3 linked regions of the Homo sapiens genome follow. The protein of the gene in region 3 purifies or fractionates together with the protein of the main gene of each other region. This does not show direct contact. Each region holds a gene or a part of one and is shown on either strand. Other genes may lie near its edges.

Region 1 (3,642 bases), on a different chromosome or scaffold from region 3:
GGGAGGGCAGGGCCCAGGAGCTGCTCAGGGGGATCCCAGGCCTGAGAGTGAATGGGCAAAGCCCACCCGGCTGGGTGCCTGCTGGGGGAGGGGCCTCAGCCCATGGGGCCACCAAGCCCCCCTGCCCCACCTCCTGGATTACACTCCCTCCAGGGGGCAGTGCTGGCTGCAGGGCAGCCTGGCCAGGTGTAGGGGAGCCGAGGTGGGGAAAGGGGGTGGCCAGGGGAGAAGGGGGAGGCGGCGGGGGCCAAACTGGGCAACCAAGGGTGGGGCCACATCCCTGAAAGCCAGCCCTGCCACACAGTGGGCAGGAAGCGCCTCAAGAGAGCACGGGAGCCAGGTGCCTTCAACTCTGGTTTTATTGAAAAACAGCAGCATTGGGGGCCATTCAGGGGAGGGGCACACACCCACCCCCGGCCCCCGCAGCCCCTCTCCTCAGAACTCGCTCGCCCCCACCCTGGGGGCTGTTTTGGCACATCTGGGGCCTCAGAACAATCTGCCCCCGCCGTGGGCTCACAGTACAGTTTCGGGAACAAACAGCAGCAGGTGAACCCCACCCCCTGTGCTCCCCAAGCCTGGCCTCCCCGGACCTGCCCTGGAGCTGCCCAGGCCCTCCACCCAGGCCCTGCTCCACTGAGGGGCAAGAGGGGCCAGGGAGGCTCAGCCCGGGGCCTGGGGCCCAGCAGGGAAGCCGTGAGCAGGACCTGCTTCCCCGGGCACTGCCAGCCCACCACCGCCGGGTACCTGCACAGCCACATATATGCAAGTACACACACAGGCACTCGCACGCATGCATGCTCATGCAACACACATGTACACTCTACATGTACAGCTCACATATGCATCCATACACATGTGCATGCTCACCCATACACCAGCCACACACAAGTACTCATACGCATACATGCCCACACACAAAGTACACACACGTACACCATATGCATATGTATGCACTCATACACTCATACATATGTGCCCCCTCAGAGAAGTACACAAGAACATGCGCATCACACATGCATACGTGCTCATGCATACACACGCACATTCATACACACGTGCATGCTTATGCATACCCAAGACACAAACACATGTACACGCACACATGCGCACACACACGTACATCTATACACGTGCTCACGCATGTACACAACTCATGCACATGTACACCTATACACGTGTACACACACATGCATGCTCACGCGTGTACATGCTTATGCACCTACAACATGCACGTGCACAGGCTCACACATGCACACATGCTCACACTACACATATCCAAGAACCCACTTGCACACACACACACGCTCAAACACGTGCACATGCACACACACAGGTACATCCCTCCTTTAAAATGGCTAATTATTGCTGTTTTAAAAAAAATACATCCAACAATGGTATGTCCGGCTCGCCATCCTTCACCCCACCATGGCCCCGGGAGGCATCACGCCACCTCTGGAAGCACAGCAGCCGTGGCGCGGAGGAGTAAGCGGATCCCAGGGTCTGCAAGTCTGGAACTCAAACCCCAAGTGTCAGCTCTGTGGCCATCAGCCCAGGAACACAGGCCTGTGGCCAAACAGAAGCAGCTTCCAAACAGACATAAGCAAGTCAGCAGGCAACACAGGGTGCGCGACTGCAGCGCCAGCCCACGGGGGATGGCAGTGGGCTCCCTTGGCGCAGGGGCAACTGTCCCACCGTCCCTCGGGCACTGACAGGAAGGTGGCCCCACGAGGGCCCACACAGCCCCCTGCCCGGCGGGGCAACCACCTTCGGCCCCCACAAAGCCCAGGCGCCAGCAGAGCCCAGGAACCCAAGTTCCCAGCCTCAGGCCACCAGCACAGCCCTGGGTGCCCCAGGGCAGGCGGGCCTCTCAGAGGGGAGCCAGGTCCCTATGGCCCAGAGAGCTTCCCCAGCACCTGCCACACAGCCAGGAAGCTCAGGGCGTCCCCAGCCCGTCGTCCCCTCTAGGGCCTGCAGCCTTCTGCCATCTTCTCTGAGAAGGACACCCAGAGCAGGAGAGGGGTGGCCCCAGGACCTCGTGGCCTCAGGCCTGCTGTCCACAGGGCCTCCCAGGCCCAGCCTTCCCCCAGGGCCAGCCATCCACCCCTCAGGCCAGACTGACCCAGCCCTTGGCCCCTCCCTCCGGGGGCAGCTTCTCACCTGCTGCCCGGCCCCAAGGCATGCCACCAGCCGGAAGCAAGGCTGGGCATGGGGCGGAGGAAGGAGGAGGAGATGCCGCCACGGCTGCGGGGCTCAACTCCCTACGCTCAGGAGCCCTTCTGGGGGCCAGACCACATGGCAGCTTCAGCACAAGCAGGCCTCCCACCCTCAGGGACCAGGTCTGCAGCGACTCACACCTGGGCAGTGGCAGCTGCCTGGGGCCACCCCACCCCCAGCACAGCAAGACCCGTGGCTCTGGGCAGTGTGGGGCATCCCGAGGCGCTTCAGCCCTCAGCTGCCCGGAGCCTCTCGTCAGGCCTGCAGTGCTCGTCCAGTGAGGATGTCCTCCTTCGCCCAGCTCTGGCCCCAGGCACTGTCAGCCCCTCCCGCCTTCCACGCCCCCCACTCCAAAAACAGAGGCTTCCAAACACACAGAAATCCCAGGAGCCCCAGGCCCCTGAGCAGTGCTAGGGCCCGGCCTGGCTTTCCCCGGGCCTCACCACGCAGAGTTTGAGTGGTGGGTGCCCATGGGGAGCGGGCAGGGGGCCAGCACTCGGGGAAGCCGCACCAGCCACGTGACAGCAGGGCCCAGGAGGGCGCTTCAGAGGTAGAAGAAGTTACATCAGAGTTTCTACAAACGTATAAAATTCACGTCAGTGCACATGTGCAGAGCAGTGAGATCCCAGGCTGGAGGGATGAGGTGGGCCAGGTCAGGCCCACCCACCAGGCACCCGGCCTCCAGCCCCGGGGGAGGACACACCTACCCCCCAGTGGCCTTCAAGGGCGCCACCAAGCTACACATTGGCCTGGCAAGGGTTCCGGGCAGCTCCGCCCCAGCCTGGCAGGCACACCAGTGCCTCTGCTCACCTCAGGGGCGGCAGGGTTCTGCACACAACCACCCCGCACACCCTTCCTGCCATCTCTACCAAGTCCTGGCAGCAACAAAAAAGGCCAAGCGTCTCACCACCCACAGGGCAGTGCAGCCAAGGAAGAGGTCACTCACGGGCGCAGATGCCACCAGAATGAGAGAAGGCCACACTGCCCAGGACTCTCAGAACCCCCAGGAGGGGGATCTGCTAGGATCAATATCAAGGAGACACTGGCAGTCCCTGGGCCTCCAGGCCCTGCCCTGGCGTCGGTGGGCTCCAACAGCCACCCCCAAGCACCCTGCACCCCAGGAGCCCGAGGCTCCAAAGGCACAGGACCAAGGGACGCTGGCAGCACCCCGACATGACACCCCCAAGACCTGACTCCACCTGGCCCGCCCTGCCCCTCCTGCCCCCAGCATGCCCCGCACCAACTGGGACCAGCCCCAGGCCAAACCCAAACCAAACCAAAAGAGGAAAAAGGCACAACTGTTTGTTTCCATTTTGCTAAAACACTTTACGTCTGTCTGTATATTCCAGATTAACAAAATCTGAGCTGCAAGAAAATAGGGTGCCGATTTCTGTACAGTCTACAAAACTCCCATCCCCAAGCGGGGAC
Region 2 (3,642 bases), on a different chromosome or scaffold from region 3:
AGCTCTTCCTCAGGCTGAGCGGAAGTCAGCCCCCGGAAGGCTGCCCCTTGGTCCTGACTGCTAGTCCACACAACAGGCCTCCCAGCAACGGAAGACGGCTAGGATAACTTTTCTGAGCCTTAGTTCCCTCCTCTGCAAAATAGGGCCAAGATCATCACTCCGACCCACCAAGCAGCGTTGAGAGCGCCGATGGCGCAACTACCCCCAAGGCCAGTAAAGAAAGGTGGCATGGGCAGGGCATGGCAGCTCACGCCTATAATTCCAGCACTTTGGGAGGCCGAGGCGGGCAGATCACGAGGTCAGGAGACTGAGACAATCTGGCTAACACAGTGAAACCCTGTCTCTACTAAAAATACAAAAAATTAGCCAGGTGTGGTGGCAGCGCCTGTAGTCCCAGCTACTTGGGAGGCTGAAGCAGGAGAATTGCCTGAACCTGGGAGGCGGAGGTTGCAGTGAGCCGAGATCACGCCACTGCACTCCAGCCTGGGCCACAAGAGCGAGACTCTGTCTCAAAAAAAAAAAAAAAAAAAAAAAAAAAAAAAGGCGGCATCGAGCCAGGTCCTCCTTGGAGGATTGCTCACTACCTTTAGAGGCAGCATGTTCCACATTTCAGCAGTTCTAGGACACACATGCTTAGTCTGGGATTAAATCTGCTCCCTCCCATGGGTCTTTAAGCGAGTTGCAGGTGGGGGCTGGGACTCTGGGTGGTGGGGAAGTCCAGCAGGAGAAGCAGGAAGGAGGAAGACGTCTTGAGGTCTGACCACTTCTTTACCCAGCAGCCTTCCAGCCTGCCCCACACTCCTTAACTTGGAGGAAAAAACAACCGGGTTCCCTGGCCAGCGCGCGGGGTGAAGAGGCCTCTGTTAGCCAGGAGTTTCGGGCCTGGCTGGGGGCCCGGCCTTGGGTCCTCACCTGGAAACCTCCCTGCAGGTGCTGACTCCTAGACGGGGCTGTCCACAGGGCAGAGCTTGGGTGGCTGGACAGATGGGGGCAAGGCTGGGTGGGCCGGGGGAGGGCTTTTGGCTCACACAGCTCAGGCAGCCCTGGCTCCACCTCAGAAACCTCTTTCCCACCTGGATCGGGCCCAGCAGAATTCTGCCTGGTGGAATTTCCACAGGATGGCACCCTAGGCTCTGACCTGTAGCCTTCAACCCCGCATGGGGGTTGGGAACTTGGGCTCCAGGCCAGACTGAGCTGGGTTCAAATCCAAGCTCTGCCACTCCCTGGCTATGGAATGCGGGGGTCATTTCTCTCAACTCACAGTATTAGTTTCCTCTTTTGTAGATTGAGTAATGACAGCATCTACACTTGAAGAGTTAATACAAGGATTAAATGTGAAAACGCTTACAAAACATCCCTAGTCTGTGTCCACAACAGACACAAGTATGTTGAAGGTGCTCAAAAATAACACCTGCGCCTCCTTAGGCCCCCTGTGCCAGGCATTGTGCATAGCGTTTAGTGTTTTGCACATAAATGCAATGAATCTCCCCGTAACTCCATCAAGCAGATAGACCATTGCTATTCCCTTTTTATAGAGATCTTGAAGTTCATACAGATTCAGTGACTTGCCCAACAGTAAATGCCATTCGCTTCTGTCACTGTTTTGCACTATTTTGCCAGGGAGGCTCTGGACACAGGGTGTAGGCCACCGTGTTGTGCACTATGTATCAAGTGCCATGCTCAGAAACGCTGAACGTGGAGCTGGACTCTCACCCCTACAGGGTGACAGTCACTCCTAGGGGAAGGACAAGGCAGTGCCAGTGCCAGTGCCCTGGAGAGGTGATCTAGACCTTGGCCTGCATCACCATCGGCCGATGGCAGCAGGATGGGGGGCATCTCCAGGGGCTGGCTAATGGCTGGTACCAGGGGCTTATCCACCTGTCCTGATACTGGAGGCTGAGTTGGGTCTCTTCCCACTTTTTCTTCCATTCCCACGAGGGCCATGGGATTAGGGAAGAGGCATCCCTCTTTGCCTCTGGGATCCAGGCCCAGCTCCATGGCCTCTGGTCTCAGGAATCCCTGGAACCTGTGTCTGACTGTGGAGCAGCCCTATCTGAGCCGTCACTCAGAGCTGTCCAGCCAGATGGTGCCTACTGTGTCTCAGGTCTGGAGCATTCAGCCGCCTTCAGGGTCCCGGTCCTCACACTCAATGGTGGGCTTCTCCCAGGACCCGCTTTGTAAAGGAGAAAGATAAGGGCAGAGTCCACAACCCCTCTCTGTCTTTGCTGACTCAGAAAACACATCTCCAGGACCAAAGCATTGCTCCTGCTGGAGTGTCCAAGACAGGGAGCCACCTAAGCCTTGGGATGATATGGAGGATACCCATTCTGATTTGATCTGGAAAGTAGTGGTTCTCATAGTGACCACCACAGCTAGCCTGAGGCAGAGGTCAAACTCCCAGCAGGGCAGAGGTGATGATGGAAGGGATCATCTGGACCAAACAACAAAAGGGCCACAGAGGGACAGCAGAACAAACCGCTCGGCAGGGAGGGGCTTTTCCACGCCTGCAGTGTAGCCATCCTGAATGGGCATAAGAGATAGCAGTGGGCACTGGGCTTTTGGGGAAAGTCTTCTTTTGGGGGTGGGGATAGCGTGTATTTCCATGTTGCTCCTCTCCACATTCATGGATATCTTTTAAGTATCAACATCCCTTGGGGTGGGGCAAAGGAGGTATTTATGTTCAGAGGTCACAATGGGAAGGTCAGGCCAATACACTGCTCAGACAAGGAGCTTACACTGGGCTGTTCTCTGCAAGGAGACAGATGACTGGCTGGACCCAAGGGCAGCCCCAACTCGGAAACATGGCAAGGGCTGGGTGTGAAGGGCATGGCCCAATGAGATCTAGGTCCCTGGCTGTGCCAATCAGACCAGTTCTCTCTGGGTCTTGACAGAGCATGGAGAGGAGTGATTTACTACTAGCAAGAAAACAGAGTAAAAAGCAGAGACAAGAGGGGAGGGGGAGAAGATTCAGCTTCTGCAGATTCCCAATGACAAGGCCCCGCTATTAACTCCCTTTTCTTAGCTGGTGGGCACAGATGGCATCTGTAGTTTTGCTCTGTTTAAAAGAAAGAGGGGACCAGTGGGGCCCCCCCGGAGCCAGCATGGAAGTGCTAGTAGAGACTGAAGCTAAGGAAGCCCAAGACTGTGGCTCACCTGAAGGTCAAAATGGTAATTCACGCTGACCCCCTCCCAACGCCCCCACCCCCGCTGCCTCATCTACTCAGTGGCTGGGTAGGGGCTAGGAAGATACTCGTGGGCCTGTTGAGGAAAGGCGGGTGGATCGGTTTTGGTGGTGGTGGCACCACCCCTGTGAACTCTGGCAGCCTGAGTCACCTCCACAGAGCAGGCTGAGGACCTGAATTGTGCCTGGGAGGAGGGGGTAGGGGGAGGCAGGTGAGATAAGAGCTCCCCCGGTGAGCCTGGAGACTCTCAGCCCTGCAGGGCAGGAACAACAGTGAGCACCTCAGCCAGGTGGGGATCTGGCCCGGAATGGCTACAGACTGGGATTGGACATCCAAGGGAGAATGTGGGATAGGACGTGGCAGCTCAGTGGTGGGCTAGGGCCTGGCAGGTTGCAGGTGTTTGTCAGTTCCTAGCACATGCCAGGCTCCTTGATGTCTCAGCCTCGTGAAAGTCCTGTGG
Region 3 (4,365 bases):
ACTCCTCCCTTCCCAGTTCACCAATCCTTCTTCAAGGACAGAGAAGCTGTCCCCAAAGCTTCCCCAGCTCCCTGCTCTAGCACCCCCAAATGCTATGGTCCTAGGAGAGCCCAGCAGGGTGTCCCAGTAGAGACCACCATGCCCCTGTCCTCTCTCATGACACCCTCCCCAGCCAACCAGTCCCCAGGTGGACCCCTGAACTAGTGGAGAGTCCAGCAGGGTGTCCCGGTAGAGACCACCATGCCCCTGTCCTCTCTCATGACACCCTCTCCAGCTGACCAGTCCCAGGCGGACTCCTAAGCACTAGCTCTGCTTTCCTGAGGTCCCTCTCCGATTTTGTGATGAGCAGCTCTCCAAGAGTTTTGACCTCCACAGAGCAAGATTATCACCTCCTTTGCTCTAGATGTTATGCTCCTAGTAACACAGCCTTAAGCTCCTCAGGTGTTTTGGATTCCTCAGTGTCCAGGTGGTCTCTGCAGCCAACACACCGATCATCTCCCCCGCCCACCCAAAGCTGTGTGTAACCAGCTTATGGCTGCCTGTCCATTAGATTCCCCTCTCACCTGCAGGGAGCAGCTGAGTCCCCTTGCCCCAGGCAGAGGAGGCCGACCCCCCAGTCCAGACCTGCTTTACTGATGCTCAATGTGGGCTGGGCACCGTGCTGAGCTCCGAGGGGTGTGGGGATTGGGGAAGGGGGACTGATACATCTTCCAACAAGACCAGGATAGACCGTACAGGCTGCTGTGTGGAGGAAGGACAAGCCGGGCAGAGGACAGAGCCTGGGAGGGTCAGGAGTGGCAGGAGTGGGGGGAGCTGCTGTGGCCAGAGAACCTGGGGAGCTCATGGGGACCCTGCCAGCGAAAGCCATGCGGGCAGGCTGGGCCCTGTATAGTCCTCGAACACCGCATAAGAGCTGTGGCTTCAGGCAGGCACAGTGGCTCACACCTGTAATCCCAGCACTTTGGGAGGCCAAGGTGGGCAGATTGCCTGAGCTCAGGAGTTCAAGACCAGCCTGGGCAACATGGTGAAACCCCGTCTCTACTAAAATACAAAAAATTAGCCGGGCATGGTGGTACATGCCTGTAGTCCCAGCTAGTCGGGAGGCTGAGGCAGGAGAATCACTTGAATCCAGGAGGCAGAGGTTGGATTGAGCCGAGATTGTGCCACTGCACTCCAGCCTGGGCGACAGAGCGAGACTCCGTCTCAAAAAAAATGAAAAAAAAAAAAAATAAAGTTTTTATTAAACATAAAAAAGGAGCTATGGCTGACCCCTGGGGGCAGCTGGGAGTTGGGTGCAGAGGCTCTGGGTTACATAGGAGAGCGCGGGCTGCGTTGGGGGGTGGGGGAGACCAGAAGCCAGGGGCCAGGAGGAGGCTGCTGCAGGGGCCATAGGGACGGGGAAGGGGGCCAGCTGGCCACAGAGGGATGACATGGGCGGGGAAAGGGCTGTGTGGACAGGTGGTGACTGTGTGGTCAGGGGGTGCCACTCTCAGCTTGAATCATCCTCAGGGGACTCACCTGGCGACACATAGGTGGGGGCAGGAAGACGGATTTCTGTAAGAAGAACCCAGCTGGGTGGGGTGGAGCTGGGGCCACTGGTGATCCTACCCCAATAGGAAAGCTTCCTGGAGGAAGTTTCCGGAGCCAGGTGTCATCAGGCTGGAGAGAGTCCCCCGCCCTCCAACTCAAAGGGAGCAGGCTCAGGATGGAGGAGGCATCGGCGAGGGAGAGCTTTGGCCCTGGAGCGTAGGCAACCTTGAGGCCAGGCAGGTGGAGTAGCCCACAGAGAGGGACTCCTGGGCACCCGGCCCTCCCGTGTCCAGTCACGGCCTGATGAGGATGGGCAGCCTCTATGGCTTTCCCCATCCCCACGTGGCCTTTGGTGGACTAAAAGGCTGGGATGCACCGAGCGTGAAGGAGACAGAAGAAGGGCACGTCTCTTGCCCCTCCCAGGGCCTCTGGTTTCCTTTCTGAGAAGTGGGCTGAATGGTCCCCAAGGACTCTGTGGCCCTGAGAGCTGGTTGCTCTCTCTCTTCTCTGGGCCCGAGAATGTGGCCTGCCCTGGGCCTCTGGGGCAGGAGAGGCTCAGGGAACTCTGGACTAGGGCCGCAGCAGCTATCATTAGCTCCCTGAGTCACCCCGTAAACCCCACGTTCTCACCTGCTGGACTCTCTTGTTGCCCTGGCCCTCCCTCTCTCTCCCAATCCCTGACACTGATTGAAATGGCCTTTCCCGGGCGACAGACCAGGCCGCGGAGCCACAGCTGCTGACTCAGCACCTGTGAGATGCCTGGGCCCCGTCTGTCTCCCACGGTGGGGCCACCTCCTCCCATCCTGAACTCCCATCACAATCCTGCCCCAGAAAGCCACCTCCCTGGGTCAGCCTCGGGAGGCAGGAGCCTCTCCTCTGCCCCCAGCAGTGGTGAGATTGAGATGTCCCTCCCCAGGATTCCCAAACCTCAGGGGAATGTTCCTGAGTCTGTAAGGACCTATATTCTCACACATCCCTACAGCCAAGAGTGCAGCCAAGAGTGCCTCCCTACAGCCAAGAGTGGGCCCCTGGCTGGGGCCCAAGCTCCTTCCAACCCTCCTCCCAAGGCCTATTGGCCAAGGGCAGACATGGCCCAGAGGACCTCTGAGGGCCACGCTCTGGGCTCCCCAGGGGCCTTGGAGATCACCAGCTGCCTTGTGCACAGAAGACTCACCTGGTGAGGTTCTGGGTGGTCGTGGCAACCCTTGCCCTGAGATCACCGCATGTCTGGGGCCCAAGGCCCCCGGGTGGGACTGTGGCTGAGGCGGCGGGAAGCTCTCATTGCAGGCAGAGGGATGGCTGGAATGAGGCGTCAGAGGCAGAACTGGCTGAGCCACCTGCCCTCGGCGCCAGGCAGGCCACGCCCACCAGCCACAGCTGCAGCACCCGCCCACCCACGTGGCCCGTGTGAGTCACCCCCACACCCACACAGCAGCCTCATCCCCACCGGAGAAAAGGCAGGGGAGGCCGCAGGTGCCAAGATCGAAGTTGTGGGTCCAACTCCTCCCTCTCTGGCATTCCATGCTGGGCAGGGACTGCCCATCTCAGGCCTATTTTTCCAACTAGGAAATGGGAATGATAACATCTACTTTCCAAGGGAGCCGTGAAGAGCCAAAGAGATCACAGAGGTGGGAGGGCCTAGTGAAGAGTCAAGCGCTCTGCTCTGTCCCCTGGGAGGGAAGACCGCAGCCCAGGCCTAGCCTGGTTGACCTCAGGGTGGCCAGCCCCAAGACTCGGCACTTGTTCTCAAAAGTCGGTTCCTGGGATCAGGTCTCTCGGGGACGGAAGTCCCCATTTAATGCTGTCCACCAGCAGTCACGCATCATGGCCCTTAGTGTCAGCCTCACCCCTTCCTGGCTGAATGACCTTAGCAGGTCATTTCTCCGAGCCTCAGTCTCCTCATCTGTGAAACGTGCTTCATAAACCCACTTTGCAAGGTTATCGTGGGGCTTCAACAAGTACAAGTAGAAAGGGCCAGAACAAGGCCCAGGGCACGGCAAGAACTCAATAAACAATGTCAGCTCTTAGCTATGATTGCTTTTGTCATCTCAATGTATTCTCCCAGCAACTGCCCAGGTTGCCCTTCTCCAAGGCCAGGGCGTCATAGAAGGAATCGGTGCCCTCTCTCCTGGCCCAGGCTGCAGCTGTGAAGTGGGTGGAGTGAGTCAGGATGGCCGTGTGTGTCTCGCGTCACTCAGGAACTGCACACCTGCTCCCCGGGGCGAGATGTGGACAAGACACAGCTGGGACAGAGCAGGAAGTCTCTGCTGACGCGGCCGCAGCTGGCGCCTGATGGGCAGGGAAATCCCCAGCTGTGAGCCTCTCAATCCCTCATCATCACAACCTGCCTGGCCTGGGGAGGAGGCAGGAGGCAGGTGAGGCTTCTAGGCCACGGGAGAGCAGGACCTATGGCCGGTAAGGGGCAGACCAGACTTGAGGGTGTGGGTGAAGCAGGAGACCGCTTCTGCCGTTGAAGTCAGGGGGTCCTGAAGTTCCCACTCACAATCTGAAATCTCATGACTGTGCCTGAAACTCGACCGGAAAAGCCCGATCTGGGGTTGAGCACGGCCTCCGGCCACTAGCTTACTCACCCTCTCCCGACCCAGCCCCGCGCCCTCCCTGTTTGCCTCTGGCGGCTCAGACGCCTGGGGAGGAAGCTGCTGCCAAATGTCAGTGCTTCCATTTTGCTCGTGTTCATAACTTTTCTCAGAGGGCAGGTGGGAGCTGGTGAAAAAGGCCCCTGTCTCCCACCCAGAGGTGTGCCCTGTGCCCAGCAAGGAAGAAGGGGACCCCCGCTCTGCTATGAGAGGCAGCAGGAGCCAGGTCACCCAGTGG

Evidence for each region.
Region 1: the proteins of TRPV3 (region 3) and NAT8L purify together in Homo sapiens (affinity purification with mass spectrometry; one large-scale study listed by BioGRID and IntAct). This does not show direct contact.
Region 2: the proteins of TRPV3 (region 3) and MMP15 purify together in Homo sapiens (affinity purification with mass spectrometry; one large-scale study listed by BioGRID and IntAct). This does not show direct contact.

Annotation. Positions count from the first base shown.
Region 1 is NC_000004.12:2,065,789-2,069,430, reverse strand, and holds the end of NAT8L (N-acetylaspartate synthetase), read right to left. Parts: 3' UTR 342-3,642; downstream 1-341. UniProt on the Homo sapiens protein: Catalyzes the synthesis of N-acetylaspartate acid (NAA) from L-aspartate and acetyl-CoA. Promotes dopamine uptake by regulating TNF-alpha expression. Attenuates methamphetamine-induced inhibition of dopamine uptake.
Region 2 is NC_000016.10:58,028,754-58,032,395, reverse strand, and holds part of MMP15 (matrix metalloproteinase-15 preproprotein), read right to left. Parts: intron 1-3,642. UniProt on the Homo sapiens protein: Endopeptidase that degrades various components of the extracellular matrix. May activate progelatinase A.
Region 3 is NC_000017.11:3,554,972-3,559,336, forward strand, and holds the start of TRPV3 (transient receptor potential cation channel subfamily V member 3), read right to left. Parts: upstream 2,842-4,365; 5' UTR 2,705-2,841; intron 1-2,704. UniProt on the Homo sapiens protein: Non-selective calcium permeant cation channel. It is activated by innocuous (warm) temperatures and shows an increased response at noxious temperatures greater than 39 degrees Celsius. Activation exhibits an outward rectification.